Regions from separate parts of the Homo sapiens genome. Here region 2 is linked to region 1. Evidence: fine-mapped QTL for protein levels in blood plasma. Region 1 holds a variant in brackets. A gene starts in the other region. All regions are shown on their reverse strands.

Region 1 (16,038 bases):
AGATTGACTGGTAAGAATGCCTCAGATTTTCTCTTTAATACCATGGCGCTAGTAATTTTTAAGTTAGATATACTGTGATTAGTGATACATGAGGCAAACCAAGCCTGTCCCTGCATCCAGGTCACAAACGTGGAGTTTTGAGGTGTAATGGAAATGTTAGTTCCCATAAGGAAATCGTATGGATGGGTAGTGCAAATTAGGCACTGATCAGTGTGATTATGAATAAAGCTTATAGCATAGTTGCAACGGGAAATATGGTATGTCCCATGCCAGGTGTTAAGGGAGGTGCTAAGATGTCCCAGACACCATAAAGTACCTTGGGGCGGCATGGACTTTACTTGGGGCCTTGGATATGCCATCCCCCCTTGGCACAAATTATAGGGGAAAAGACATGGCTATGAAACTGATTGATGCTCTGATGGATGAAGGTATTAGTAAGGCTGCCCTGCAATCAGCCGCTGGGACTCCAGTCTAAGATGTTATAATTACCTAACTGGAGGCTATGGGCTCGTCTCCCATGACAGACCTCCCAGCTAAAGTCGAACCGATTACTGTCCCAGCTTTGTTCCTTAGCACAGGAAGGAATGTTTGGGAAAGAAGCAGCGGCATGGATTGCATTGCTCAGTTTGAGGCTATCTGCAGCTAAGAATGTTAAGGCATTTCCTTTGCTATGATGTAACCATACTTGTTTTTGGGCAGGTACACAGTAAGGGTTAGAGTCTTTATAACTTACACACACTGGGAGGATAATAGTGGATTGACATATAGTGTTATCTGCCACCTTAGTCCATTGTGTGCCATTATTGAGGGACCCCACGTGGGGTAAATCTATCCCTCCTAGCCAAGCAGTCACGTTACTATAGGCTGGGAAGGGAGTGTCTTCCCATTTGGCAGGGTGAAAGAAAGGTGTGTCTAAGATAGAGGCCCAATAGAGTGTAGCAGGTACAGGTTGCAGACAAAGTGAGAGCATAAAAAGGATTAATACCCTACATGAGTTGCAATGTACAACAGAAATCATAGCACCAAACACATTATCTGGAGTAAATGGTGTCTGCATTTGGAGCAGGATTCGTTCAGCCTCCTGAGTTGTCCTTTTCAGTACCCCCCAGGTAATGTCTGGGGATTGTGTTGTTCACAGAAGCTGCATCGTCCGGGGCTGTAGGTCTTGTAGGGTTAACTCCTTCATTTCTGGTACTGGGTTGGGTCCTAGCAATGTCCTGGTATGGTTTGATGCGTCGTGCTGGAACCCAAAGACGACCCGAGGGGGTGTGGATACAAGCGTACCCTCTTCCCCACATTAATAATTCACTTGGACCACACCATTCATTACTGTTTACATCTTTCCATAAAACTGCAGGTTTCATGTATTGGGAAATTTTAGCAAAGTGCTTTTCTACAGCGGATTCAAATTTGTCTTCTAAATTAAAAAAATAAGGTTTGTGCCAAAAGTGTTGCAGGGTCTGTACCCATACTCCCCTGTTTTTGTTTTTTGTGCATATTTTAAGGGTGGAGTTGGCAAGTTCTACTATTGCTTGTCCTTGGGGTTTATATGGGATACCTGAGGAATGTCGGATATTCCACGTGTGACAAAATTGTTGAAATTGTGAGCTGGCCTAACCTGGACAATTATCAGTCTTAATTTTTGCGGGTTGTTCCATAAATGCAAAAGATAAAAGAAGATGTTTAATGACATATCGAGTAAACTCTCCAGGCGGAGTATGTGCACTACTTAAATGAGTGTTGATATCAAAGGATACATGTACCTATCTAAGTTTTCCAAATTCAGGGATGTGTGTAACATCTGTTTGCCACAACAGATTAGGTTCTAGGGTTAATACCTGTTGAAGGAGGAGACGTGCCTGTGAGCTGGCGATCTCAGAGACTGTTTAGCCAGTCTCTGTATAAGTTGAGCTGGCGATCTCAGAGACTGTTTAGCCAGTCTCTATATAAGTTGGAATTGTTTAGATAAGTTTTTCCAATTTTGGTGGAAAAATTGGTGCAATTGGGTGGCTTGGTCAAGCAGCGATATCATAACTTGAAGGTTGGCTTGATTATTGTCATAAGCTAATGGACCAGGCAGTGAGCTGTGGGCTGGAATGTGTGTAATAAAATAGGATGTGTACTTTGATTTAGCAATTGCTGAAATCAGAGAAAAAGAGTCCACAGGGCTGGCTCCAGAGTTGACTTAATTAGGGCTGTAAAAGTTCTCTAGACCCAATATTAAGGACTCAACTTTAGCTTTCTGAGTGCTAGTAAACCCAGATTGAGTGAATGAATTGTGTGGTGTCCACCAGACTGCTGCTTTTCCATATTTACCAGATCTATCAGTAAACAGTGCTAAAGCATTAAATATGGGGGAGTAAACTATTTTTGTAGGTAACACATTAACTAGGCCTTTTGGGAATGATGAAAATGGGTAAATTCTAAGGGCTGTTAGTAGAATATTACCCATAAAATGAATAATCTTGTAGCCAGGAAACTTTTTCCTACTAGGGAGCAAAGCTTGCTTTTAATTGCTCCCTAACTAACTTAGGGGCTTTTTGTAATGTCTCTCCCTTTAGAGGTTACTGTTTTACTTAAACTGGATTTGGAGTCATGTTAGGAATAAGAGAGAGATAACAGTGGCCATTATTAGAAAGAGGTTTCTCAAATTCTTAAATTTTACTTAACTCTTATCATAGAATTATAATCTGGGATGTCGCTTGTATACAAAGAACATAACAAATTTTGCTTTGGGCCGCCTGCGGAGCCAGAGAGCGGAGCAGGTGGGTCCCAGGGCGGCTGCGGCTTTGTGCTTGCTTAGAAGCCACTTTTCGCCACCGCGTTTCCTCTGTGCCAGCTCCCTCCCCACACTGCTCAGCAGCTGCTGCCGGCAGAGGGGAGCTTCCTGCACTTGCTCCTGCCCCTAATGCCTTTTCTTAACCCTTCGTGTACCTGATTGCCTTGCTGATCTTGCATTACTGGGCAGTCTAAGAGCTCCCCTTTTAATGCTGCTTGTCGAAGACAGGGACATATAGCTGTAGTGTATTTCCTCTATTTTTTCTATCTATTGAAAGAGGGGGCTCAGGCAAAACCTCCGTTTCCTCTTTGTTATTTTGGGAAGAGCAGGTGGTAAGGCAAGTGACGTTTCTTCCTCCTTCCCCTTTTTGGGTTCTTCTTTGTATAATGGGACTAAAGCCATCCCTACTAAAGCCCATAGTGTTAAAGATGATGCTGGGACCCGTTGCGCTTGTGTGTAATGCTGTTCAAGATTTCTCCCTACTTGTTCCCAGAGCTTTACTTCTAGCTTTCCTTCTTCTGGGACCACAGATTATGTGAGACAACAGTTTTCATTAGGTGCCTTAATTGAGCCTGCGAAACTGATGCTCCCCTAGCCTTAAGCAACTGTTACAATACTTTCATATGCTGTTTGTGTTGAGCTGATAACTGCTGTCCCATGATGAAATCTCAGCCTGAACAATCTCCCCTGAACTTGGAGATCCCAAGTGGGCACCAATGACTTACTGTTTTACTGACTTGACCACGCAGTCTTCCTCAACCTTCGTTTTCATGGGGTCTGTCACGCTCCCTTTGCAGCGATCCTCACATGGGGCACCGGCTGTGGGGGTCTGTCCTGCAGGTCCTGACACAACAACGGGTGAATAAAGTACACTGACACACAGATATTCTGCTTTGCCAGCTTGACTGACCATCCAGGTAGATCAAAGGTGAGTCTTAGGACCACATGAGTGAACAAGCTAGTTAGATAAACTCCCCACATTCTTTTGTTTCTACTCAAATTTACTAAACTAAAGGTAAGGGGACTAGGCTGCCTTCAGCCAGATTTATTACTGAAGTTATGCAATCTCTCAAGCCTTCCACGAGGACTTGTGGCTATTATAACTAAAATTTTTCCCACGAGCCTGACTGAACCCCACAGGAAGTATTTTCTCCAAGTCTGTGGTTGCCTTTTACTCCCTTATCAGTAGGTATCGCAGAAAAATGTGTGTGTTTGTGTGTGTGTGTGTTTGTACAAATTTAGATTGAAAACATATATAATTTTATTCATTCATAGATCATGCCTTTGGCATTATATCTGAAGTTTCATTATAAAATAAACTAATAGTCATTATTTTTTCCATATCTCTAATCTCAGGCCACAATCAACTCATGAGTGTTTAAACTTCACCTGCTTGATTGGAGGACCATCAATCTAATGTATTTGGAATACTTCTGTAAGGAGATGTGTTCTTCTTCCTATTATTTTTTAATTAATCATCTATTAATATCAGTATTGGTTGATGGATGTCCATTTTATACTTTGAAAAAGATCCATGCTACATCATTCATTTAATTGTTCAAAGCACCACAGCTTTATTAGGTGCTGGGAGCTCATTTTGTTTGAATCCTGCATCCTTACAGCACACCTCATATTTTTGTTTTTGAACACTTGCGTATTTCCTGGTATTACCATAAATTCTAAGCTTGTTTTCTTTATTACCTTTTTTTACATAGAATCAACCACTTTTATAAAGATTGCATGTTTCTGATGTTAAAGAATAGTATTAAAATAAAACATTGTGATACTGGCTCTGTGTGTTGTTAATGTGGTATGAGTACTTCTAGAACCTCTCAAACAATGGTCCCAGTAAACGTGCATGTTTATGTGAACCCAAGTTTATGGACTCATTGAAACTATTTATGTATCTAATCTTCTGTAACCATATCACATTAAAAATGAGAACACACTGGTCTCTCCACCCAACTATGTTAGCACATGAACCTTTCTAGTCTTCTTTCTTTGCGTTTCCATAACCACCCACTGCAAAGTGAGAAACCCCATTCCACCATATGTAATTTTATTACTTAGCTGCACAGTTTCAGGACACATGCATAGCAGTATCAAAAGTGTAAAGCTGTGCCCTTGATGGAACCATGTTTATCTACTAGAATAGAGTGCTTATGTGCAGATTTTTTACACATTAAACTTATAGAATTTCTTCGTTTTCTGAGTTGCTTAGGTCAGCAACTTCATTTTCCACATTCTTCAATGAAGTCATTTCAATTACATTGTATAATTTCATTTATTTGAAATTCCATAAATGCTTAGACTATAGTCAAGTAAACAGACAGAGGATGTTCCAGGAATTTAGAGAGTGGGTATAAAATAAGCAAAAAAAAAAATGTGGTGTTTAGGAAAAATAAAACTATTTTTAGTGATATGCAATGGTTGAGATATGATATAACTAATTTGTCTAAGCTAATAATTTTGTGATAGAAAATATAAACTTAAACATATTCAATTAAAAAAATTCAGCAGTTCATTAACCCCAGGATTAAATGCAGACTGTATAAAATTATCCAATAACTTATTTGGTGAGAGTGGGGATGTTATGAGATACATGCAACAAAGAATGAAGTAATTTTCCCCATTTGCATATACAATGTTTCCATTCACTGAAGACCTTTTATTTTAAAAAAATCAATTTTCTACCTTACCCTTGTTTTTAATTCCCGACAAGCAAATAACCCAAAGGATTCTTTTCTTTCATTGGTTGAGAAAGATTTTCCCCTAACTTCAGCTTAGTTCAGGCATACGCTGACCTGAATGGGCATTTACCCTCAGATGGGTACACACCTGTCAATATGTGGACTCTTCTGTCAGACAGACACAGCTTCACTCATGTGGATTCTTCCCTCAAACACAAATGTCCCCACATGGACTATTTCCTCAGACTACCACATATGTCCTTACATTTACACTTTCCTCAGAAAACAGACATTTCCTCATGTGGACTCTTGTCTCAGATAAGCAAACATGTCTCAGTGTGAATGAAGTCTTCACTCAGATAAGTACACATATTTCAACACTGACTGTTTCCTGACACAAGCACATATGTCCAATGTTAAACTGTCTTGCGACAAAATGATCTCAAGATAATGATAATTATAAACTCCAACCCTGAAAATCTGTAGATCTGCATTTTGTCTATTGTAACATAACTTCATCTCATTGTCAGAAACAGTCGTTTGCAGCTATAAATGCACTGATTACAGTCAGATTTCCATTTTCTCTGGAAATGTATTTCTTATGTTCTTACTGGACTAATTTGTTGATAATGTTTGCTCACATGAAGATACCTGAACAGTGTCCACATTAGAGAATAAAAAAGAGCAATGGGCAGATTAACCCTGTGCATCCAGACGCAGGAACCATTTGACTCTGCCTTCCCTGAAATGGAGACACAGAGGATGGATGAGCAACGCTGAGTGGTGCACCTACGACCACAAAGAGAAAGACCTGGAAATATGTCCCATCCCCTCCTCATGAAAGGCAGCTCATCCCCTGTTCCTTCAGGCCCTGGTGAGGAGCCACCCCATATCTGTGTCTTTCTTCAGTGTTCACACTATGGAGTCTGCACTGATCTGGGTTTCCCTTCTCATCACCCTCCATATTAGTGTCCCTTGTAAATCAGGTCCAGCTGTGGCTGCTCATAGGGTTGTTCTCAGTCTATTTCCTCTGTGTTCATAGAAGTCCTGTATGAAGTTCAGTGGTGGAGTCAGAGGGGTAAACGTAGTACAGCCCAGTGGTTCACTGAGACTTTCTTGCAAAGCGTCTGGATTCACCTTTTCTGGCAACAGCCTGAGGTTGGTCCAGCAGGCTTCACAACAGGGATTGTGGTGGCTGGCAACAGTGAGTCAACAAGTGGGAGTGCTCAGGTTTACTCTTCATGAGTACAAATAAATTAACTGGTCCAGCGACACCCTTTCACGTGCACTCTACCTTACAATGACTAACCTGAAAGCCAAGGACAAGGTTGTGTAATACTGTGAGCTTCACAGGAGAGAGATTATCTGCACAAGCCCAGACACAAAAATCTGCAGGGAGACAGGAGGGAACTGCATGGTAGATGCTGCTCAGAAGCACCAGGGGGCACTCAACACAAGGGGGCGCTCAGGACACCAGGCGGCACTCAGGATACAGCTGGGGGCGCTCAGGACACCAGGGGGCCACTCAGGATACAGCGGGGGGTGCTCGGATCCACCAGGGGGCTCTTAGGGCACCAGGGGGCATTCAGGACCACTAGGGAGCCCTCAGGGCCACCAGGAGGACCTCAGGACACGTCAGCGTGCTGGAGCCACCGGGGGGGGGGGGGGGGGGGGGCGCTGAGGAAACCAAGAGACGCTCTGAACCGCGAGGGGAAGGAAGCTCAGGACCACGAGGGGACGCTCAGGACACCAGGGGGCGCTCAGAACACCAGTGGGCACTCAGAACAGGAAGAATCTCTTAGAAAGCAGCTCCACATCAGGATCCTGGGAGGCTGTGGAGAAATGGGAACACTCATAAACTGTTGAGCATTTAAATTAGTACAACCACTATAGAGAACAGCTTAGAGTTTCCTCAAAACCTGACGATAGAGTTATCATATAATCTGGCAATCCTGCTGCTGGTATATACCCCTAAAAAGGAAATGTTTTTGCACTACCATGTCTGTAATAGCACTGTTAAAGCACTGTTCACAACAGTCAAAATTTGAAAGCAACCTATGTGCCGATTAACACATGAATGGATAAATAAAATATGGTACATATAGGATATGGGTTAATATCATGCCATAAAAAAATGAGATTTTGTCATTTGCAGCAACATGGATGAAACTGGAGTTCACTATATTAATTGAAATGAGCCCAGAACAGAAAGACAAAATTCACATGTTCCCATTTATTTGTGAAAGCTAAAAATTAAGACAATTGAACTCGTGGAGATAGAGAGGGAAAAGATGGTCACCAGAAGCTGGGAAGGTCTATGGTAGATGGGGATTATTGGGGATGGTCAATGGGTAGAAAAAGTGATTAGAAATAATAAATAACACATAATATTTTATAACACAACAGAATAAATATAGTCCTCAATAACTTAATTATAGATTTTAAAATAAAAGTTTATGAATGGAATGTTGGTAACTCTATTAATGCTTGAGAGGATGTATAAAATATTCTTCATGATGTGATTATTATGCAGTTCATGCTGATTCAGAGTCCTGTACCCCATAAATATATACGTGTACTATTTACCCACAAAGATTCAAAATTAAAGTGTTTATGTGTCTAATATTCTGTAACTATATTACATTAAACCTAAGAACACACTGGCTTTTACACACTACTGTCATCCACATAGACATTCATAGCCTTCTTTCTCTGCTTGTCCATAATCCCACACTCCAAAATGAGAAAACCTCTCCTAAGATATGACATTAATTTACTTAGTGCACAATTTCAAAATACACAAATCGTCTTTAGGATTGTTAAACTGACCCTTGTTGAAAATATGTTTATCAACTAGAATACAGTGCTTATGTGGAGCTTATTTATGTTTTACAATCGCAACATCAAATTCTTTCCAAGTCTCTTGTGTCCAATATTTATGCCCCACCTTCTTCAGTGTAATTAGTTCAAACCTTCTGATTGTTGTTAGATATTTTTATACAGCTGTCTTTTTTTGTGTTTCATGACCTGCTAAATACTTTCGAAGTTGTATGCATTTAGGTTAACACTTTGTCTCAAAAAATATGAGTTTTCAGAAATTCTTTATGCCATGTGTCCATCATTGAATATCATAAAAATAGTTTCATTGGCCGGGCGTGTTGGCTCACGCCTGTAATCCCAGCACTTTGGGAGGCCGAGGTGGGCGGATCACGAGGTCAGGAGATCGAGACCATCCTGGCTAACACAATGAAACCCCATCTCTACTAAAAATACAAAAATTAGCCGGGAGTGGTGGTGGGCACCTGTAGTCCCAACTACTCGGGAGGCTGAGGCAGGAGAATGGCGCGAACCCGGGAGGCAGAGCTTGCTATGAGCAGAGATCGCGCCACTGCACTCCAGCCTGGGTGACAGAGCAAGACTCCCTCTCAAAAAAAAAAAATAGTTTCATTGGGATTAAAAAGTGTGTGTTTCACCTAATCCACACACCTTCTCCCCACCTTCCTGGGAAACCTCAAATGTTTACTGGATCTATATTTTTATCTTTGGCAAAACAGCCTGGCTGTTCTCTTAGCCTCTTTTGCAAAGCATCAAGATTCACCTTCACTGACTACAGCATAAATTGAGCCCAGATGGCTGGGGGACAGAGGCTGGAGTGGGTGGTAACAGTGATTGATTCAAGTGGAAGTTCTCAGTGATATTCTGCATCAGCATAATGAAGATTCACAATTCCCAGGGACACCAATTACCAGCACAGTCTCCCTTAAAATAATCTACTTGGAAGCTGAGGGGGCTCTCACAGGGGTAGGCAGTGTATTACTGTGAGAGACACAGCGAGGGACATTTCTGTGAGTCCAGAC[A/G]GAAACCTCCCTGCAGGGAGACAAGAGAGGACTTTGTGATAAATGGTGCTTAGGACACCAGGGGGCACTCAGGACAGCAGAGGGTGCTCAGCAGAGCAGGGTGCGCTCAGGACATGGTGTGTGTTGTAGGGGGCATTGCTCAGGATCACCAGGGGGCTCTCAGAACCACCAAGGGTCACTCAGGAAACCAGGGGGCGCTCTGGACACCAGGGGGAGCTCAGAACCACCAGGTGGTACTCAGGACACCAGGGGGCGCTCATGACCAGCAGGGCATGCTTGGGACTCTATGAGGCATGCAGGAGAAGCAGGCCGTGCTCAGGGCAACAGGGGGCTCACAGAACCACCTGGGGGTGCTCAGAACCACTAGGGGTCACTCAGGACAGCAGCAGGCATTCGGGACACCATGGGGCCCTCAGGACCTGCAGGGGGCGCTCAGAACACCAGGGGAAGGTCAGAAAGACCTGGGGGCACTTGGAACCACCAGGGGGCACTCAGGACAGCAGGGGGCGCTCAGGACCACTAGGGGGCGCTCAGGACCAGCAGGGGGTGCTCAGGACACCATGGGGCATGCAGGAGCAGCAGGCTGTTCTCAGGGTAACAGGGGGCTCTCAGAACAACCTGGGGGTGCTCAGAACCACCAGGGGGCACCCAGGACATCATGCGGCCCTCAGAACCTGCAGGGGGCGCTCAGGACACCAGGGGAAGCTCAGAATGACCTGGGGGCACTCAGAACCACCAGGTGGCACTCAGGACAGCAGGGGGCGCTCAGTACCACGGGGTGCACTCAGGACAGCAGGGGGCGCTCAAGACACAGTGGGATGCTCAGGACCAGCAAGAGGCACTCAGGACCACCAGGGGGCACTCGGGGGAGCAGGAGGCACTCAGGACACCAGAAGAGGATCAGAACCACTCGGGGGCACTCAGAACCACCAGGGGGCGCTCAGGACACTGGGGGCATTCAGAACCACCAGCAGGTTCTCAGGACACCCAGGGACACTCAGGACAGCAGGGGCGCTCAGGACACCAGGGAGGGTGCTCAGGACACCAGGGGGCTCTCAGAAACACCTGGGGGTGACCAGGACTAGCAGGGGCATGCAGGACACCAGGGAAGGGGCTCAGGACACCAGGGGGTGCTCAGGACAGCAGGGGGCACAGAATCACGAGGGTGCATTCCAGACCACCAAGAAATACTCAGGACCAGGGGTAACAGAAACACCTAAAGACACACAAGACCACCAGGAGGCACTCACGACTGCTCAGAGTGCTGAGGACACCAGAGCTTCAGGACGAACAGGGGGTGCTCAGGCCACCATGGGGGGCTCAGGAACCACCAGGGTATCACTCAGACAACAGGGTTCTCTTAGGAGGCAGCTCCACATCAGGTGCCTGGGGAGGGTCAGATTTGCTTTTAGACCTTGCTGATCCCTGATCTGGTCAAGCGAAAACCTTCCCAGGATCTCTCACCATTTCTTCCTTGTAACCCATGGTTTCTTTCACGTACAAATCATTAACTTAGAACAGGAATTCAATTCAACTTTTAACCCTCCATATTTTTAGAATAACACTAGCAGTAATTGAATGTTTTGATAATAAGAAATTGCGTATGCCTAATTCAAGCTCTGGTTCCATGCATGGGTTTTTGTTTTCTTTGCTGTGTCAGTCACACTATAGTCAATGCTTTTCTACCAATAACTCAGCATAGGCATAGTGTTAAGTTTCTTTTTCTTTCATCTGCCTTTTGTGGAGATGAAACACCACTTTCAGGGCTCAGTTCCCCCACCTTGGTTGGGTTCTGGTGTTCTGCTCCTCACACTATTTCTCCACCTTCCCTTCTTCTGTCCAAGCCTTTTGTCTTCCTCAGTCTCCTAGCAAGGAAGCAACAAGTCCCTTTATTTTGCCTCTTCCATGTCTGGTGAATCTGTTCACTTCTCTTCATGATCATTGAAGTCAACCAAGTTTAGGAGGATAACAGTTCTCCTTAGAATATGCTCATCTACCTGCAGACTCTCTGCCTTCCTCACCCCTTTCTAGGGTCCTGCAGACGTCACCTCCACCACATCCACTCCTTTACCTAAGTACCACAGAATAGTCTCTGCAGCTCCTGCTGCTCTCTGTGTGCTCAGCACTAAGGCTCACTAGTGCTTTGATGATGAAGTTCAAATCCCTAATGTGTTAGCAATTCTCAGACAACCCTGCCATTGTGAGTGAATTTTGGGGATCCTGGGCTGTTTTCAGTTCCATATTACTGGATGTTCTCTAGCATCCAGGAGTACTGGCAAATTAACATCTAGAATTTGTATTGCAAATTTATACAAAATCAATTGTAGAAAAAAATCCTAATTTCTAAATAAGAACATTTATCCTGACTTTTATAAAAATACAATGTGAATTTAACCAATAATATAATACAATTTTAAAAGTGATGTTTATCTTATATGTTATTAAGTTTATTAATAATTGGCTGGTATTTTAAAAGTATACTGATAGCAAAACTGACAAATAAACCAACACAGATTCTATACATAAATACCATTGTCCATTTAATTAATGTGTTTGGCCAGAATGGCATTTACATTCAGTTCTACCGAGGCATGTCTTTAAATGTATTTGTTTATTGGCATTAGGATAGAGAAACACTCACACAGAAAAGCATTATTTGGGACTACTACATTATACTATAAAAGAGAGTAAATTCAATTCAATTAAATAAATAAAATAAATTGAATAAATTCATGTTTTGGTTTGGTATTTGGATAGGTGTTCATTTTTCTATTTTCACATGTATATTTCAGTACTGGGCATATGTGTGTATGTGTATGCATGATTATGAACTTCTAAAATACATTACTCCCCTATATAGTTATATAAATTGAAGTTTTGCATGTTAAGAGACAGTAGAAACCACAAAAGGGGAAAAGTTATAGAAAGCATTTGGAATACCTAGGGCCTACAGAGGAGTCATATTAAAATGAAAAATAATAGCTGAATATTTTGGAAATGACACATGCAGTAAGAAATGTCTATATGAAATTAACAGGATATTGGCACAAAATTTAGAAAAAAATAACATGATTATGCCCACTATTGGTCTATGATATGCCTATAATAATAACACATTTTATTTATCATAGAAAATAAAATAATTATACAAATAGCACTCTCATTGCTTGATTTTAGTATTAGGTACTTCACTTGTTTTTTGATAGAAATGAACATTTATCATTTTTTGATGATAATTTCTATATTATCTTCTAAAATTAATGTCCATAATTATGATTGACATGTTATAATTTCCAGAAACCTATTTTATCAATTGTGACTTGTATTTTTATGATAGTATTTTTACATTCATATACATTTGATTCAGAATAATTGTAGATTAACAAAATAATCATAAAGTTAATACAGTGTGTTCCCATCTCTAAGTATCTCCTAAGATGAACATCCTCCACAATCATAAAACATGGTGTTAACACATTTACGTTGATAACTTTAAATATATTCAATACCAGGCCTTATTTGAGATTTACCATTTTTCCAATAATTTCTTTTGTAAACCAAAAATAAAATTCTAAGCTTCCTCATCCAACTAAATGAACTCAACTATCAGCCAAAGATATTTTAAAGTAAACTTTAAAACTTGTTCCAGCAATAATGGGAAAATGAGAGGTCAGATATGCCTCATTATGTCCTCCTGTCTTTGGAATTAAGGCACCTGTGGCCAGCATTAACACTAAAACAAAGACCCTTAGACTGACAAAACTATATTTTTTCTATAAACACTCTTCATAGTGAAAAGATACCAAATTACAATATGATTCTAGTATAGCATCACATGACAAACAGCAACGCCTAAAAATCTATTCTCTATGAAGTCTGCTACCTGGAGGTTTCATCTACATAATAACAATTATGAGCTCCACAATCTCGTATCTTAATCCAGATACTCATTTGTAATGAGTGTGTAACATTTCAACCAATTGCCAATCAGAAAATGTTTGAATTCACGTATGTCCTGGAAGCACTTGAGTAAGCTTATTCTGCCTTTCTGGACTGTGTAAATGGTATAGCTCACATGTGTTGATTCATATCTGTCTATACCTTCTGTACCACTAAAATGTATAAAATCAAGCTGTAACCAAACCATTTTGGATACGTGTACTCAGGAACTCCTGGAGTTGTGTCATGGGCCTTGGCCACTCATATATATCTCAGAATAAACTGTCTTAAATAATTCACGGTTTGTCTCTTTTAGTGGATACTGTCTTTTTCTTTTTTCTTTCTTTTTTTTTTTTTGTTTTTTGAGACAGGATCTCTCCTTGCTGTTGTTTTTGTATATTTGTTTGTTCCCAGATTCCAACAAGGTCATCACTTTGAATTGAGTTGTCATGTTCCTTTATTCTCTTCTGGCAAATCACAGTTTGTGTTTCTGAAGTTTTCTAGTTTAATATTTTATAGATAAAAATTTATCAAGTAGATTGATAGTCCTATTTAGGACACTTATATCTTTACTTATTTGAACACTGCTTGTCAATCACAATGAGTGTTGATTTCTCCGTCTTCTATACATGTTATTATATTTTCTGTTCCAAATCCATTCATTAAGTATTTTTAAATGTATTTTGGAAAGTTGATCCTATTACTTTATGTAATATTTCTCTTGAGTCCCAAAGGTCTTCTTTTTATGATTATTTTGTCTTAAATTAACATAGCTATTTAAGTTTTCTTTTGGTTTATATTTTCATGATATATATTTTTCCATCTTTATTTTTTCTATTTCTGAATATGTAAAGAAATTTTCTTGGAGATAAATAATAGTTGGGTGTTTTTTTTTAGTCAACTATGAAGAATTATTTTTTAATGATGTTACTCTTTTGTCCAATTATTCTTGTTTTAATTTGTATTTTTACAATAAAGTTTATTGTTTCTATTAACTTATTATTTAATCATTCTGTGACTAACATTTTATGGGTTACCATAAGGATAACAATAAAAAGTTTCTATAATTGAATTCTAATTCAAAAATTTAATTCCCATTCATATATACTACAGAGATATTATAACTCTATATATCTAATTCCTCTTTCCTATCCCATGTTTTTTATTTTCTGTTTGTATCTATACATGCTATAAAATGTAATATTGGCATTTTTATAATTGCTTTCCACACTTACATAATGAACAAAATACAAATGCAAAAACTGTATTTCAACCTCATTTTTCCATTGTTGACCATCTTCTTTGTGCATATTTTCAGGTGTTGGATCTATGTCACATGGCTATTCATCTAGAGACTCTGCTAAAATGTCTACGGAAAGATTCATGTGCTGGAAATAGGTTTTCTCAGGTTTTATTGGTCCGACAGAATATTTATTTGTCTTTGATTTATTGTCTCCAGAGACAATGTCAAGAATATGCTATATCTGCAAATGGGCGATCTGTAAACCAAGAACACATCAGTATATCACTGTGCAAGAGGAGCACATGAGGGAAAGCCAGTGTGTGCCCAGACATAAACCTCCAGGGACACATGGGCGAATTAGCTGCAGGGGGAGCTTGGGACCCACTGATGAGAGTCGACCCCAGAGGGAGGTGCACAGAAAGGTTAAGAACTGCTTTCCTGCCAGTATATTTTTAAAAAAACAAAACTTCCATCTGACAGTTTCTCCAGAGAACTTCCCTAATTTTAGCATTCTGTGCCTACCAATGCCATCACTAAATAGGTTTTTAAAAAATATTGTAATATGAGGACATATTCTCATATGGACAAAACGCAAATTGACATTTACAGAAATGAAAAGTCCTCAACCGTGGTCGCTAGAATTGGAGACCTGTAGCAGCTCAGTGGGACCTGTTGAGTCTTCTCCAATCACACTCAGAACAGAGACCTTAGTGCATCTCCCTGACTAGAATACCCTTTAGGTATCGAGATAACAGCCTAAAGATGGTAAATCATGAGAGTCTCAGATGTCCAGATGACAGACATGGGTCTATGGGAATAGTACTGTAACTGACAGTAACTAATTTTCCATACCGCCAGATGTCCTATTCAGGAGCAGCTACAGCAGTCATGCCTAGGTGTGAAGATCACACACTGACCTCACCCATGCTGTCTCTGGCCACTTCATCACAACCAATGCTTAATATTGGACGTGGATCTGCCAGTCCCCGGGGAATGGGTTGAATGGATAAAATGCATGGCTAGTGCTGCTGGAAACCCATTCCTACTGTGGCAAATGGCAGCATCTCTTTTAAAAGGCTAAATAATATTCTATTCTGTATACATACCACATTGCCATTATCCTTTTTGTTTGTTTGTTTGTTTGTTTGTTTGAGATGGAGATTCACTCACTCTGTCACCCAGGCTGGAGTGCAGTGGCGTGATTTCAGGTCACTGTAATCCCTGCCTTCTGGGCTCAAACAATTCTCCTGCTTCAGCCTCCGGAGTATCTGGGATTACAGGCATGCACCACCACTCCCGGTTAATTTTTGTATTTTTTGTAGAGATGGTGTTTCAACATGTTTGTCAGGCTGGTCTCAAACTGTGACCTCAAAAAATCAACCCACCTCAGTCTTTGAAAGTGCTCAGATTGCAGGCGTGAGCCATAGCATCCAGCCACTTTTCTGCATTTTTTTTTCATTGACACTTAGATTATTTCAATATCTTGGCTCTTGTGAATAGCGCTGCAGTAAACATAGGAGTGCAGATATC
Region 2 (16,038 bases), not on the chromosome of region 1:
CCCATAGGGTATCATAGGGTGACAAAAGACCTGATCCAAGTCCCATCCACTGTCCATGGTATTTATAGACACACTCTACTCACATAAAATACTGACGTTTGTGAGCGCGCGTGGTGTGTGTGTTGGGGTGGGGGTGGGGGATCAGAGAGACCACGGAGACATGGATAGGGCCTGCAATGATTCTCTGTGTAGTGGTGATGTCACTGGGTTGTGATCTAAAGAGGAGAGAAAAGTCAGCAGAGTTCATACCCTAGGGATGCAGTAAGAACGAGCTATTGATGGATTAAATACTGAATCTAATTTTACTCCGGATCTCTGGGCCACAGGCCTTCTTGGGTGTAAGACAGAGATTGAAAACTCTGTTTTCTAAATTTAACAGGTGTTGGCCAGGCGCAGTGGCTCATGCCTATAATCCCAGCACTTTGGGAGGCCAAGGTGAGCAGACCACCTGAGGTCAGGAGTTTGAGACCAGCCCAGTCAACGTGGTGAAACACTGTCTCCATTAAAAATACAAAAATTAGCTGGTCCTGGTGGCAGGTGCCTGTAATCCTAACTACTCGGGAGGCTGAGGCACGAGAATCACTTGAACCGGGAGGTGGAGGTTGCAGTGAGCTGAGATTGCACCACTTCACTCCAGCCTGGGTGACAGAGTGAGACTCGGTCTCAAAAATAAATAAATAAATAAATAAATAAATAAATAAATGTAACAGGTATTTATAGAGTATTTGCTGCTACCGCTAGTCATGGTACTGGGGAGCTCTGTGTAATATAAAGAAATAAGGAAAATTCTTTATGTGTGCATGTTACGCAAACAAGTCATCACAGCTCAGTGTCACAAGTCCTACACTAGAAAGATGGTAGGGTGCTGTGGGAGCATCCCCAGAGGAAAGGAAGATGATACCCAGGGGAATGAGAAGAAGTTCTATTGGAAGTAACATGTCACTTCAATTAAATAAACACATATCAAGTGCCAGGCACTGTATTGGGGATGGAAGGTGTCTAGACACAGAATATCTGCTACCAAAAAGCCCAAAGCCAGGCCCACAGAAGCACAAGAATGACAACCTGCTGCAACAAAGGCAATGTGTGTAAAGTACAGGGTGGCACAGCTCTGGGAGCAACAAATTGTGTGTGTGTCCTAGGGAAAGTGATGTCTGAGTTAGGATTGGGAGGATAAACATGAATTTACCAGCTTTCTGGTAGAAAGAAGCACGGACACAAATGTGATAGTAATAGTACGTACAGAACATTGACCAGGGGCCACGCACTGTACTAAGTGATATTACTGACATTATCTCACAGAGCCCTACTACTCAACTCTTTGAGGCAAGCACTACTACTCTTAGTACTTGTGCACTCTTAGTACAAATTTCTTCAGACTTTTTTATGTACACAGTCAGGATGTGGGTAGATTGCAAAATAACCAGCAAAATTCTCCTCCTCGTACCCATGTGCTTCAGTAGCTCTTTCCCATACTGAGTCTTGACTTGGTCATGTGGCTTGCTTTAGCCAACGGGACCCATCCCTGCTCTCATTCCCCTCTCCAGTAAGACGGAACTCTCTGCAGGTTAAGAGTCGAGGGTCTGGAACCAGACTGCCTGGATTCAAGCACGCAAACATGATGCAAGGGGTTTGAAAAGCATTTATGCCCTGAGGCTTGTCCCCTTTGCTGTGCTTGTAGCCGTGACACTACTATTTGAACACGCTTGAGCTAGTTTGCTAGGGTGGCCATGTGAAGAACTGAGGAGCCTCAGCAAATTGTCAGCCAACCATCAGACATGTAAATGAGGCTATCCCAGAGCATCTGGCCCCAGCTGATCCACCAGCTATTGGTGGCTGCAGGACTGAGCCTAAGAGAGACCAGCAGGGGAACCACCCAGCTGAACCTAGCCCAAGTGCCGACCCACAGAATGATGAGCTAATGAATGATTGTGGTGTTAAGCCATTAAGTTTTGGTGTGATTTGTCATACAGCAAAAGCGAATTGATAGAGGGTGCATCTTCCAAAGGACAATGTTTTGCAATTAAAATCAGCAGAAATTCTTTTCTTTATCAGGGCTACATAAATTAATAGTGCATCTTACAATTGATGATTTAGATTTGATGCAATACAGTATTATATTCACTCAGCAGATAAGAAAGACAGGGATTTGACAGTTACTTGCCTTGGGTCTGAACTAGTGAGTAGTGGAATTGGTTCCAACCTGTGTGACTCCAGACTTTTTACTCTTGACTACAGATAGCTGGAGAGGAAAATGATATGAACTTGTTGGCGGGGAAAGCAGGGTCAGGTTATGAAGGGTGCCTTAGAAACCCTTGCAGAGGTTGAATTTTACTAGTTGGGAATAAGTGGCCAGTTGAGTGGGAAAAATGAAGTAATTATCATTTCTTTTTGACATTGACTACATAAGATCTTCATATCACTTCCAAGAACAAAAAAATAGAGTGCTGTGGGGACGCAGGGTGGGGTCTAGACGCCCTGGTTTGTCAGCTCTGTGTTGGGGCAGAACTGCAATGCCAGGAGAAGGCCTGAGCAGTGAGTCTGGGAGAGCTGGAGTCCTCCAACCCAGAAAAGAGAGGGGAAACCCTGGGCAGCTGCGGCCTAAGCAGCTGTGGATTGTTCTCCCACATGGAGTGGATGAAGCCAGTGGATCAAGTGCATGTTAAAACTAAAAGGGGTGTGGAGAAAGGGACTATGACTTCATTAGGGCCACTGAAGACCACAGGATAATTATCAGTAGTGTTAGAACAGTGTCGGCCTGGTGGAAATGCTTCTTCTTCACTACCGCTGAAGCCCAGGAGAGTTGAACTAGCAAGTCCAAGCAGTGGCATCATAACGGTGCAAAAAGCATTGCCAACGGGAGTAGATTCATTGCGAGGCTCACATAGCTTGATTTTTAGGGCTTCTCATTTATAGAAGCCCCTTGTGAGACCTCGGGAGGGGCTCTGGCAACCTAGTCACATGGTTAAATGTTTCCACAAAATTTGCAAAAGTAAGACCACGTAGCTGCAATCAGTTGATACAGCACATAGCACAGTTGGTGCACTCTATGCAAAGTCTCTTCTGTCACCACCTCATCCCATTATGGTGCTGAAGTGACCAAGGTCATCTTTGGAACCCAGCTAACAAGAGCTGGAGCTGAACATACATTTCTTTGGGTCTGGGGAGATGTAGTTACGGAATTCACAGGGACTTGCATGTATAGCTCTAGCTTTCTCCGCACAGGAATGCCTTCAGGTATATTTCTCCACCCTCTCTGTCAACTTATCTAGCATCCTGGCAGGAGGTTCAAGGCCAGAGATCATATTTCCCCTCTCCTAAGGCATCTTAGGAGATGGGCAGGGGAAGAGAAACACGGAGTGAAATGGACATAGCCGGTAGGTTTACCACTGAAAATTTTTCCAATCAGCATTCATTTAAAATGAAAAGCAATGAATTTGGTACCCATCCACATAGTTTTGATTTTGAATCAAAACTAACAATGTAAGAAAAGCCCATCAATCATGGTAGAGAAAAGTCCGAATTTTCTTCCTGTAGAAAATTATATTATAAAAATGTCACATGTGGCCTTCCTCCTAAAAACCTATAACCCCAGTCTAATCGTAAGAAAAACATCAGACAACTCCCAATAGAAGTATGTTTTACAAAACACTCACCAGTATGCCTCAAAACTGTCAAGGTCCTAAAAAACAAGGATAGTCTGAGAAACCGTCACAGCCAAGAGGAACCTAAGGAGGCGTGATGAGTAAATGCAATGTCATATCCTGGTTGGGATCCAATGCAATGCCATAACCTGGTTGGGATCCAATGTAATGCCATAACCTGGTTGGGATCCAACGCAATGCCATATCCTGGTTGGGATCCAGTGCAATGCCATATCCTGGTTGGGATCCAGTGCAATGCCATATCCTGGTTGGGATCCAATGTAACGTCATATCCTGGTTGGGATCCAATGCAATGCCATATCCTGGTTGATATCCTGGGACAGAAAAAGGACGCTGGGTAAAAACGGATGAAATCTGAACAATGGATGGGCTTTGGTTATAATAATGTGTCAATATTGGCTCAGTCATCATCACAAATGTTAATCTAAGATGTTAATCAGTGGAAATTGGGTGGGGGGTTTATGGAACTTGGCAATTTTTCTATACATCAAAAACTGTTTTATAAAGTTTATTTAAAATGTCGCATGAAGAAAACATTCATTAGTACACAGCCCAAAACACAGGAAAAAAACTTATTAGAGTGGTAGGAAAAAAGAATTAATAAAATTTTTAGGTGATTTTTTTCTGGATTTTGTGAAATTTATGATTGCAATTATGTGGGCAACATTTTTTCCCTTCCCTACTGCCGGAGGCCCTAGAAAGCCCAAACTTTTAAAATTTGTAGTTTACTGTGATTTCTGTTCTAATTCTAAAGGAAACATTCACTTTTGTATCCAACTTTGTATTTGTAATTTTCTTATAGAGGTTCCCTAAACTGTGTAAGTTTAAGGCTCCAAACGTGGATCTACCCTTGGTTGACATCGAGTAGTTAGAAAAATGTGTCCAACTCAACAATTGAATACCTACTCTGTGTAAATGAAGAGGACGTGCAGGGGAGTAAGAAAGACTGGGATGGTTCATGAGGATTCACGGGACACACTGCCTCCTTCCAGTCCCTTACAGTTTCATGGGGGCATGGATGTATGCCTAATATAGTTGCAGTCCCAAAATGGATTGAACAAAAAGAACTCAGTTACTGATGCCAATCTTCCTTTAACCAGCCAATTACCGAGGTCTGTAATTAAAAGCTCATCGGCCATTATTAATTGATGTGGCTATACTTCAGATAGCCATGCTCAAAAGCAATAGGTGCAGAAGATTAATAATAATCACAGCTTTGTAGTTCCTAATCACAAGTGGGAACTTTTGAGACAAGGCCACTGTAAACCTGCTAATCAGCTTGACCCAGAAAGACTTCGATTCTTTTTTTCTTTTCTTTCTTTCTTTTTTTTTTTTGATGTGGTCTTGCTCTGTTGCCCATGCCAAAGTGCAATGGTGCAATCACGGTTCACTGCAGTCTCGACCTCCTGGGTTCAAGAGATCCTCCCACCTCAGCCTCCCATGTAGCTGGGACTATAGGCTACAGGTGCACACCACCATGCTGGGCTAAGTTTTGTATTTTTTGTAGAGACAGGATCTCGCCATGTTGCTCACACTGGTCTCAAACTCCTGGGCTGAAGTGATCCGCCGACCTTGGCCTCCCAACATGCTGGGATTACAGGCATGTGCCACTGCACCCGGCCCAGTTCTCTTTAGCTTCTCCAGGAGATTGATCAATCGGTGTTAGGCAGATGTCAATGTGGATTTAGCCAGAATTAGCCACAACATTTTAATCAGGCCAAAATGTAACAAGGGCAGGAGTGACCGAAAAAAGACTCAAATTTCCGCTAGGAAATTTGCACCACTACAATATCCAATTGGCTCTTATTCCCTTGGCTAGAGAGATGCTTGAAAAAAAAGACAGTAGAAAGGAGGGTTAAGACTGGTTTCTTAAAGAAGTAAGTACAAGGAAGTATAAGTTCATGCTGCCTGCTTCTAAAAGAATTCTATTCCTCATAACTACATAACATTATAATGCTACTGATTCATAAGGAGTTTAGATTAATTCTATTGGAGAGGACACCAGGATTATTAGTGTTTATTTTCATCTAGGATCTTTATTCTTTAATGCTGTTGGTCCCACAGACACATTTCAGTATACAAAAACACTGCAGTGTTAATAGCCAAAAGAAAAGCCATTATGATGTGAATAGTGGTCATTGTGATCACTGTGACACAATTTTTAAAAACTTTTTCTTAGAGACGGAGGGTCTCACTATGTTGCTCAGGCTGGTCTTGAATTCCCGGACTCAAGCAATCCTCCTGCATTTGCCTCCCAAAGTGCTGGGATTACAGGTGTGAGCCACCGCACCTGGCCCAATTTTTAAAAACAATCATGTCCTTCATTTAAAAAAAAAAAAAAAAAAAAGGCCGGGCGCGGTGGCTCACGCCTGTAATCCCAGCACTTTGGGAGGCCAAGGCGGGTGGATCACGAAGTCAGGAGATCGAGACCATCCTGGCTAACACAATGAAACCCCATCTCTACTAAAAATACAAAAAACTAGCCGGGTGTGGTGGTGGGTGCCTGTGGTCCCAGCTACTTGGGAGGCTGAGGCAGGAAAATGGCATGAACCCAGGAGGTAGAGATTGCAGTGAGCCGAGATCGCACCACTGCACCCCAGCCTGGGCAACAGAGTGAGACTCCGTCTCAAAAAAAGAGACTGGTTTCTTACCTAAGTCACAAACTCCCAACTATAGAGTCTGGAATCTTCATTTAATGAGAACGCCAAGGGCGTGGCTGTCAATCCTATGACACCTGTCTGAGGTAGGTATTATTCCTGATTTAAGGAGGATGCAATGAGGCTTGATGTGGATTCACCCACCCCAAAGCCTGTGTTCTTAACCACTATGCAATACTGCCTCCCATCAAAGTCTCTATCTCAAGTCCACAAGACAACCCCATACATTGTAAAACTTTTTGGAGTGATTAGATAAAAACTTTTTTGTTTTTTTTTAAGTGTGTGTGCTGAAAGAGACCTAAGAGATTATTTAGCCAAGCCCCCTTATAGCCTGAGGAGAAATCTAGGTTCTAAGGAATGAAGTTGCTTCCCAATGTCACCTAGAAGTTCCTGCCAGAAGGAGTGTGAACTCAGGTCTGATACTGGGTTGTGTGCCTTTCCCAGCCTTGAGTTGGAAATCACCTCATTAAGGGCTAGAGCCCAGGGAGAGGCACCCAGTTTAAAAGAAAAGTGTCTTGAGGAGAAGACGTAAGGTGAGACAGCCAGTGACGACCATCCACATGTTACGGGTTGAATTGTCACCCCCACATTCCCCAAGTTCATATGTTCAGGGGTTTGTTGTTGTTGTTGTTGTTGTTTTGAGACAGAGTCTTGCTCTGTCTCCCAGGCTGGAATGCAGTGGCGTGATCTTGGCTCATTGCAACCTCCACCTCCCTGGGTTCAAACAATTCTTCTGCCTCAGCCTCCCGAGTAGCTGGGACTACAGGTACGCACCACCATGCCCCGCTAATTTTTTTATTTTTAGTAGAGACAGGGTTTCACCATGTTGGCCAGGCTGGTCTTGAACTCCTGACCTCAGTTGATCTGCCTGCCTCGGCCTCCCAAAGTGCTGGGATTACAGGCATGAACCACCGTGCCTGGGCATTCAGGTATCTTAGAATGGGACCTTACTTGGACATTACCTCATGATTACAGAGGTCATCAAGTTAAAATGAGGCAATTCGGGTGGGCCCTAGTCCAGTATGACTGGTGTCCTTATAGAAAGAAGGGATTTGCACACACACACCACAGGGAAGATGGTGTGAGGAGACATAGGGAGAAGATGGGCATCTGCAAGTCAGAGTGGCCGGGCACACATGCTCTTTCATGGGCCTCGGAAGCAGCCAGCCCTCCCACGCCGTGATTTTGTACTTCTAGTCTCCAGAACCAGGACAGACCATACATTTCGGTTGTTGAAGCCACTTAGTGTGTGGTACTTCGTTCCAGCAGCCCTTGAAAACAATAGACCACAGAACTTGGGAGGTGCCTGCAGAGGTTCTGGGGCTGAGGGACCGGTTGGAGAAGAGGAAAAAGGAGAGGCAAAGATGACAAAATCACGGATGGGGAGGCGAGATCTGGACAGAAAAACCAGGGATTAGCCAAGCGGGAACCAGTGAAAACGAACGTGGAGTCCATTTTTTCTAGATCTGGAAGATGGAGATCTAAAAGGACTGAGCTGCTAGAGAGGTTGCTGGTGTGTGCGTTGTCCTCACCCCACTGCACCACTGCGCCCAGCACACTGTGGGAGACACCCAGGGAAAGTCCTTCAGTTATTTGTGGGAGTGAACTGCAGTGTGGCTGAGGCCTGGAGCGAACCACGGTCAGTTTCCCCTGCCTGCAGCCCAGGCATAGCCCTGCGTTGGTTGTGCCCACACTCTGGGGGCAGCCTGAGTGCCAAGTGTGGTACTGCTCTCACTAGCATTTAACCTCTGTGCCCCAGCTTCCTCTTCTGTGAAAGGACAGTAATGACAGTACCTACCTCACTGGGTTATGAAGATTAAATAGAATAATGTGTACGCAGTGTTTGTAGCAATGCCTGGCATCAAGCACTGGGTAAACAGTATCTATTATTATCAAAGGCCTTTACGACAACAATCATTCTTCAAACGGCCCTCCAGCGAACGCTGGGCGCAAACTCCACGGTAACGGGGACCAATGTTGTTAGAGGTTGAGGTTCCTGGTAGGTCCCAGGTGCTAAAAGGAAGAGCAGCCTTTGGGATGTGAGCCCGAAAACCATCGTGTTGGCTTCTGAAGCCCCAAGATGGGCATGGCAGGGACGCGGAAGCCCTCAGAACCGCGGAAGCCCTCAGAACCGCACAGCAGGTGGCCGCCGTGGTGCAGCGCGCAGTCGGCCCTCAGCTCCCCTGCACCGGCGCGAGCTGCGGGCGCTGCCCACGTCAGGCTCTGCAGACACCAGACAGAAAAGGTCTTCCGGCCAGGGAGCGTGGGGGAAACCCTGTGGGGCCGCGCCCGTCAGTGTCAAGGAAAAACGGAGAGGAAGGCCCTTGCCTCCAGGGCCCTCGCAGCAGAATTCTGCCCGGCCTGCCAGGAGGCCAGCGGGGCACGGGCTGAGGGTGCAGGATCCGGAGGGCGCCGCCCGCCCCTCGGGCATCGCGGGGCCCAGGGTCCGCGGGGCCTCTGAGCTGAGGCGGTCCAATGTACCCTTTGTCCTTCCTCAGATTCATTATGAAATCCGAGGCAGTCTGGGCGACTCCAGCGGCGTTCGCCCGCCGCAGCCTCTCGACCGCCGGCCACCCGCCAGCCACGCGCGCCCAGACAGGAGGGCGGCCGGGCGCTCGGCGGGGCGGGGCCTGCCGGGGGCGGGGCCTGCGGGCGGGGCGGGGCCGCGGGAGGGCGGGGCCGGCGCGGCGAGCGCACCAGCAGCATCCTGGCTCAGCCGCGGCGGTGGCGGGGGCGCAACCAGCGGGCCGAGGCGGCGGCGCCAGCGGCGCCTTAAATAGCATCCAGAGCCGGCGCGGGGCAGGGAGTGGGCTGCAGTGACAGCCGGCGGCGGAGCGGCCGGTCCACGGAGGAGGTGAGTGCGCCCGCCGTGCGGAGCCGCGCCTGCTCCCGCGGCGGTGCCCGGGCCCCGGCCGAGGCGCCGGCTGACGTTGCCCTTCAGGGCCGAGCCCGGAGCAGCGGCCGCCGCGGAGGCGCGTGAGCCACCCCAGGCTCGTGGGGCCGCGCCGCCTTTCCGGCCTCCTGCCCGCGGCCCCGCTTCCCTCGGCAGCCGGAGGCCTCCGGGGTGCCCGTGCTGCCGCAGCTTCCTGTGTCTGAGTCGCGGGCGGCGCGGGCGCGGGGCTGGTGCGCGGCCGGGGATGCGCGCGGGACCGACCCTTGTGTGTGCGGCGGCGGGGACCGGCCCGGCGAAGCAGCCGGAGGCCGCGCTTCGGCTGGGAGGAGGTGGCCCAGCTGGGCCGCTGACGTTGCCCTCGTCCGCGGCCCCCGCCTGCCCAGAGGCCGGGCTCGCGGGCGTTCGGACCGCGCGTGGGGCGAGACTGCACTCGCGCCCGCTGAGATGCCGGCCCCACGCAGCGCGGCGGCACGAGGCCCACAGGCAGCTCAGAGGCCGCTGCCAGAGGCAGACATTCTCTCGGTGACTCCAGAGGAGTGCCCGTGGCCCTTGCACTTGGCCGTGGAGTCATTGATCTAAGGAGTGCTGGCATTTTTTGAAATTGAGAAGCAAAGATGATGTCTGTCACCTGGCAGCGTAGACGGAGAGTGGCGGTAGATGACTTGAATGGACACGTGGATTCGAGTCTGGGGACAGGCGTTCCCCCAGTCGGTGCGTTGTGAGAGTGTGGAAACCCCTTCCCCACTCAGTCCAATTTCAAGGTTATGGAGCATAATTAAGAGTGACCATTCTAAAAGCGTTCTCTAGTGCCCTGGCTAAGACTTTTAAGCTTCTTGGTGCAGGAGTGTCTAAAGTCCCGCGACTCTCACTGCCCTGTCTTTTATTTTCTTGACCTTTGATTAGCGTTGAGAGAAACTGGTTAAATCTTGCAGTTTCTGCCACCCATTTCACAACTTAACCTGTGATTGTCCCAAAGAAAACAATTATTGGCTTCTTGCTAGCAAAAAAATCAAAGGCTTCCGGTTGATTGTTTCTTTCTTTTTTTTCTTTTTTCAAGTGGACGTGGAAGGTTAGGCTGGCTAAAACTTAAAGTTTGAGTTGTAGGTCTGTGCTGGGTAGGCTTGAGAAGATGGAGCTTTTTAAGGAACCATTGCTCGCCATCAGATTGGAGCCAGACAGTGCAGTGTGATATAGTGGAAAAGGACCAGGTCTTGGGAGACTTACTTTCTTGTTCTGACTCAACTCGGAAAACACCTCCCTAGTCTGAGGCCCCCCTCCTTATATTTGTGAACAAACTGCATTAGACTAAAATCTTTCACGAGTCCAAATTCTGCGACTAGAAAAATAAACTTGTTAGCCGCACACCTTATACCTCTCCCCTTTAAAACAGACATATTAAAGACTTCTGTTTTCTGAATTTACTGTAAACAGAATACTTAAAAAAAAATTACCCAGACAGGCGTGGTGGCTCACTGTAATCCCAGCACTTTGGGAGACCGAGGCGGGCAGATCATTTGAGGTCAGGAGTTCGAGACCAGCCTGACCAACATGGAGAAACCCTATCTCTACTAAAAATACAAATAATTAGCCAGGCGTGGTGGCATGCATCTCTAGTCCCAGCTACTCGAGAGGCTGAGCCAGGAGAATCGCTTGAACTCAGGAGGCAGAAGTTGTGATGAGCTGAGATCCCGCCACTGCACTCCAGACTGGGCAACAGAGCAGGACTCTGTAAAAAACAAAACAAAACAAAAAATTACCCTTCCCCACAATTATAAGCATTTTGGCATATTTCCTTCCTGTCTCTGTTGTTCCTATTTTGGCAGTATTTTTATTGTTATCGCAGGCAGCCTGACTGAAAAGAAATCTGGGCTTCTAAGTTTTTGGTATTTAGGAGGTAGATACAAGTGACCCATGCATGTAGGGTTAGGTATCTATTTATACCATGCAGGTAGAGTTTTCATAGCCACCTCTACTTTTGGGTGAAGTTTAGGCTAACTGAAAGTGTACCAGCATGCATGGTGTATGCAGAAAAATGAACGTAATTCAGATTATGTGATAGTTTTCTCTTGTTGCCATTATATATAACCCAGGGCTTACCACAAACTGAAATTTCTTATGCATTGACATTTAGCATTTGATGTAAAATGACTATCTCAGAGTTGCTGCCACAAACACTGGTAAAACTGTCCCTACTTTCTAGCATGCTTAATGTCTAGGTCTTGCTACATCTTTTTTGATGTAACTGTTTTGTGGAAAATGGTTGTGTGTTTGGGGAGGCTTTTGAGAAAAGATAAGGTTGTCTTGTCATTATAACTGGGTATTTCTCCTCTCTCCCTTCCAGTTTCACTTGTCTGGAAATAGCAAGACTATAGGAGTAGTAATTTCTAGATATTTATAGTCAGTAACCTTAGAGGAATGTTTAGTTTTTAAGATCAATTGAATTTATTGTGTAAGTTTGCCATTTAAAACAGGTGCCCATTTGTGTTTACTGTCTCTTGTAACCAAACTCTGTTCAATTAGAATCCATTAGTAATGTTTTGTGGAGAGTCTTGTTTGGATGATGCAGTGCATGAGGCTCCTGTACTACAAAATAGAAAAGAAGTTCCTCTAAGGCAGCTCAAAGCTGTTGATATCCTGAAGCCTTTTTAGGCCTCCCTCTCTGACAGGCGGTGATCTGACAGGAGGTAGATAAAGGTGCCGGAGTTTTTAGTGAAGGTTGGCAGTCCAACTTGGTAGTCAGACAAACACATGATGGTCAAAAGTGCCTTTGACACTGGGGCCTGGAGAAGAATTCTCAGTGGCCAGAGCTGATCTGAAGCTGCAGGCAGTTGAGTTTGAGTTTCAACATGTTGGTACTTCAAGGGGCTTCTGAAAAGTTTTAAAGGAGCACAAGCCCTGAAGGAGTAGCTGAACTTAGTGAACTGGAGAAGGCAGGGGCAGTTTTACCAGGGTTTGTGGCAGCGACTCTAAGATTGTCATTTTACATCAAATGCTGAATGTCAATGCATAAGAAATTTCAGTTTGTGGCAAGCCTTGGGTTGTATATAATGGCAAGAAGAGAAAACTATCACATAATCTGAGTTATGTTCATTTTCTACATCATGACATTTTCACTTTCTTTTTTTTTTCTTTTTTCCCAGATAAGGTCTCACTCTGTCGCCCAGGTTGGAGTACAGGCATGATCATGGCTCGTTGCAGCCTCTCCACCTCCCTGGGCTCAGTTGATCCTCCCACTTCAGCCTCTCCAGTAGCTTAGACTACAGGCGCACATCACTATGCCCAGCTAATTTTTGTATTTTTTTCGTAGTGAAGCGGTTTTGCCATATTGCCCAGTTGTCTCGAACTCCTGGGCTCAAGCGATTTGCCCTCCTTGGCCTCCCCAAAGTGCTAGGATTACAGGCGTGAGCCACTGCACCCAGCCCACTTTCATGTTCTTGACTGTGTTAGAAACAACACAGTATTGATTCACTTATGACCTTTGAGGAATCAAGAGGGGCGGGTGAAATATTGGAGACTCCTTGAAGTGTGGCTGGCTTGGAGGGTGTCACCCTTGGACAAAAACTTAAGTGGAGGTGAGTAAGGGCCCTGCTCCCCTGTGCTGCCTGCCTTAGAAGGATGTGATCATCTGGAGGCAAATAGCTTGTTGCTTGAGGCCAGGAGTTCAAGACCAGCCTGGGCAACAGAGCAAGACCCCATCTCTAGAAAAAAAAAAGTAAAAACAATAAAATAAAATCTCAAAACTGGTGGTTCCATATAGGTGCCTGGGCTGATTCTCTTTATGAATTATTTGCTGGTCTTCAAGTTTAAATAAAATTCTGAAAGCTGTCTAATATCTAAAAACCACTTGCCACAGAAAAGCTGTATTTGTTTTTCATATTTTAAGAGTCATACATACTTACTGGAGAAAATTTGGGAAATAGGAAAAATGAAGCTCTTCCAGAGATTAAATACTATTAACATTTTGTTATATTTCCTTCCAGTCTTTTTTCCCTATACAATAAACAAATTTTAAGCATACATTGTTAATTAAAGATTACAATTTTGACAATTTAACTTTATCACCTAAGTTATATTGTGGGCTTTTTTACACGTTGTTACATATTCTTCAAAAAATAAGTTCTGAAGATGACTGCATTATTTGCTGTATGGGCCATAATTTAGTTACTTCTCCCCATTTGTTGGATATTTTTCAGAACAGTTTACCAACCTTTGTTATATGTTTAAATACGTCTTTAAAAAATAAAAAATGTTCTGCTTTAAAACTCTTGAAATTAACAATAATTTGAAAAGTGTTTTTACTAATGAATAGGTTTAATGGACTTTTGGGTTCATGTATTCTAGTCAAAAGCAGTTGAAATAGGGATTTCATGGTTTGGAAAGAGAAATGGAAAGAAGTTAGGGCATCAGAGGAGGAAACGGGGCCTGCCTGTAGACCATTTCCTCATTCTGGAGGGGACTTCTGATAAATGTAGGCTCTATCCATTAGCACAGCTTTGGCTGCTATAGAAATGGGCACTTTCCCCTTAGGTTTGTTGTGGGAGAAATGTCCATATAAGAAGGACTGAAACACTCTGAATACTATTTATTCCTTTATTAAGCAGAGTCATGAGAAAGTGCTTCCGGAGCTAGTTTCTCCTTCAGGGTCCAGGTGTCTGCCACAAAGCAGGGCTGTGGTAGCTGACCGAGGTGGTAGCCACAGCCTGGACACGGCCAGGCTTAGGAACAGAGCAGTGATGAGAGCAGCAGACAGAGCCAGGTGCTGCTAAGCTTCTGATGGGTTAACTCATTAGTACCTTCAGCAACCCTGTAAGGTAGGTCCTGCTGCTATCCTTACTGTACACAAGATAAAGGAACAGGTGCAAAGATTAAGTTCCCCATACCAGAATTTGAACCTAGGCAGTCTGGCTTCAGGGTCTGTGCTCCTAATTGCTGGGCTCTACTGCCCCTCCAGAGCTAGAAGTTCTCACTCCAGGAGGGCCTAGAAAGTTCCAGGTTAGGCCAGGTGCGGTGGCTCACGCCTGTAATCCCAGCATTTTGGGAGGCCGAGGCGGGTGGATCACCCTGACCAATATGGTGAAACCCCGTCTCTACTAAAAATACAAAAATTAACTGGGCGTGGTGGTACGTGCCTGTAGTCTCAGCTGCTCGGGAGGTTGAGGCAGGAGAATCGCATGAACCCAGGAGGCGGAGGCTGCAGTGAGCCAAGATTGCGCCACAGCACTCCAGCCTGGGTGACAGAGTGAGACTCTGTCTCCAAAAGAAAAAAAAAGAAAGTTCCAGGTTATACAGCTGGCAGTAAGACAGGAAGGACAGAGCTGGGTCTCCTTCGGTGTCACTGCTCCTTGATTTTACCCCCATCTCATTTACACTCTGCCTTGAATTATCTCTTTATACCACTAGAGTGCTGAAAGAGACCACAAATTTTGATTCAGCGTGGCTCAGGGAGTGATAAGATCACTTGCTATGTAGCTGTGACTTTCTAGAGAATTAAAAAATAAAAGGCTTTGCCTGCCCTGGACATTGGTCTTGTAAGGCTGGAGAACAATTGAGACGCATGACTGGCCGGGTGCAGTGGCTCACGCCTGTAATCCCAGCACTTTGGGAGGCCGAGGTGGGCGGATCATGAGGTCAGGAGATCAAGACCATCCTGGCTAACACGGTGCAACCCTGTCTCTACTAAAAATACAAAAAATTAGCCAGGCATGGTGGTGGGCACCTGTAGTCCCAGCTACTTGGGAGTCTGCAGGGATCGGAGGGGGGTGACTTGGCCAAGGTAACACAACCTGCCTGACCCTCTGGCCATGCACACGTGTGGAGTTTGTTCCCGGGCCCTGTGCCTGTTCAAAGAATGGCTGGACGTCGGTATTGCCCTTGGTTTCTGCCCTGAAGTCCAGTCAGTCAGCAGTTCTGCTTATTCTGACCCTCTCTGTGCAGTATTACCCAACACACATGCATTTCCTCCTTGCCTTCTCAGTATTGCCATCGTGAACCAGAATTGTCACCTCCAATTTAAACAGTGAAGGCCTTTGTTAGGAAGAGGGGCAGGGTGCAGAGGGGGATGGTTGCTTTTTCTAAATCACAGCTCTGATCAAATCCCTCCTAAGCAGAAGCCTTCCAGGCTCCCCTCCATAAGGCTCCAGGTGTTTACTTACCTTGCCTGTCAGGGGCTTCTGCAGCTTGCTTCCTACCTGCTATCTCCACTCCTCTCCAAACCACCATATCCTGAGGCTTCTAGAAAGCAAACTCTGGCGGCATGGGGTTAATGGGTCTGTGTACCCAAGACACTGTACCTGGGTGCTGTCATCTGCCTGACTGACCTTCCTGTGTCCTGGTCCGATGGTGTCTTTGATCCTATAGCTAAGATCAAGACACTGAAAATCTCTAGACTCAAGTCTGTGCTTTTGCTGGGATAAAGTTTGTGTTGAGTACATCTAGGCTGGGTGTGGTAGCTCACGCCTGTAATCTCAGCACTTTGGGAGGCCAAGGCAGGTGGATCATCTGAGGTCAGGAGTTCGAGACCAGCCTGGACAACATGGTGAAACCCTGTCTCTGCTAAAAATACAAAAATTAGCCAGGTGTGGTGGCAGGCGCCTGTAATCCCAGCTACTCAGGAGGCTGAGGCAGGAGAATCCCTTGAGCCTGGGAGGCAGAGGTTGCAGTGAGCCAAGATCGTGCCATTGCACTCCAGCCTGGGGTATAGAGTGAGGCTCTGTCTCCAAAAAAAAAAAAAAAAAAAGTACATCTAAATGGTACGATGCCCATGTTGGCCTATTTGGAATGCCATTCCTTGTCCCACAGAGCCCTGCTCCTCAGAGGCACTTTT

Alleles and levels. Alleles are on the strand shown, and positions count from the first base shown. The strength of an association depends on the size of the effect and on how common the allele is.
As copies of A replace G in region 1, the plasma level of the protein whose gene starts at base 9,124 in region 2 goes down (strong association).

The links. PIP is the chance, under the fine-mapping model, that this variant and not a neighbour inherited with it causes the effect. Protein levels are from antibody-based Olink assays in UK Biobank. Linkage for the fine-mapping came from a reference panel and not from the study's own genotypes, which makes the PIPs less certain.
Region 2: ACSL1 starts here. The variant in region 1 is fine-mapped to the plasma level of the ACSL1 protein (UK Biobank, PIP above 0.99).

The regions. Positions count from the first base shown.
Region 1 is chr14:106,685,871-106,701,908 of GRCh38, reverse strand. It overlaps IGH, the pseudogene IGHVII-67-1, the pseudogene IGHVIII-67-2, the pseudogene IGHVIII-67-3 and the pseudogene IGHVIII-67-4. Among named protein-coding and RNA genes, the nearest start is that of MIR5195, 160 kb to the left of the region's middle. The variant A/G (reference allele first, on the strand shown) is at 9,327.
Region 2 is chr4:184,819,054-184,835,091 of GRCh38, reverse strand. ACSL1 (acyl-CoA synthetase long chain family member 1) reads left to right here and starts at 9,124. Exons shown (of 21, transcript NM_001995.5): 1 at 9,124-9,176. It overlaps LOC105377587 (a long non-coding RNA gene), which reads right to left and starts at 8,921. Exons shown (of 3, transcript XR_939564.4): 1 at 8,121-8,921; 2 at 3,657-3,979. RefSeq lists enhancers at 7,946-8,225, 8,396-8,445, 8,052-8,555, 9,806-9,875 and a silencer at 8,676-9,635.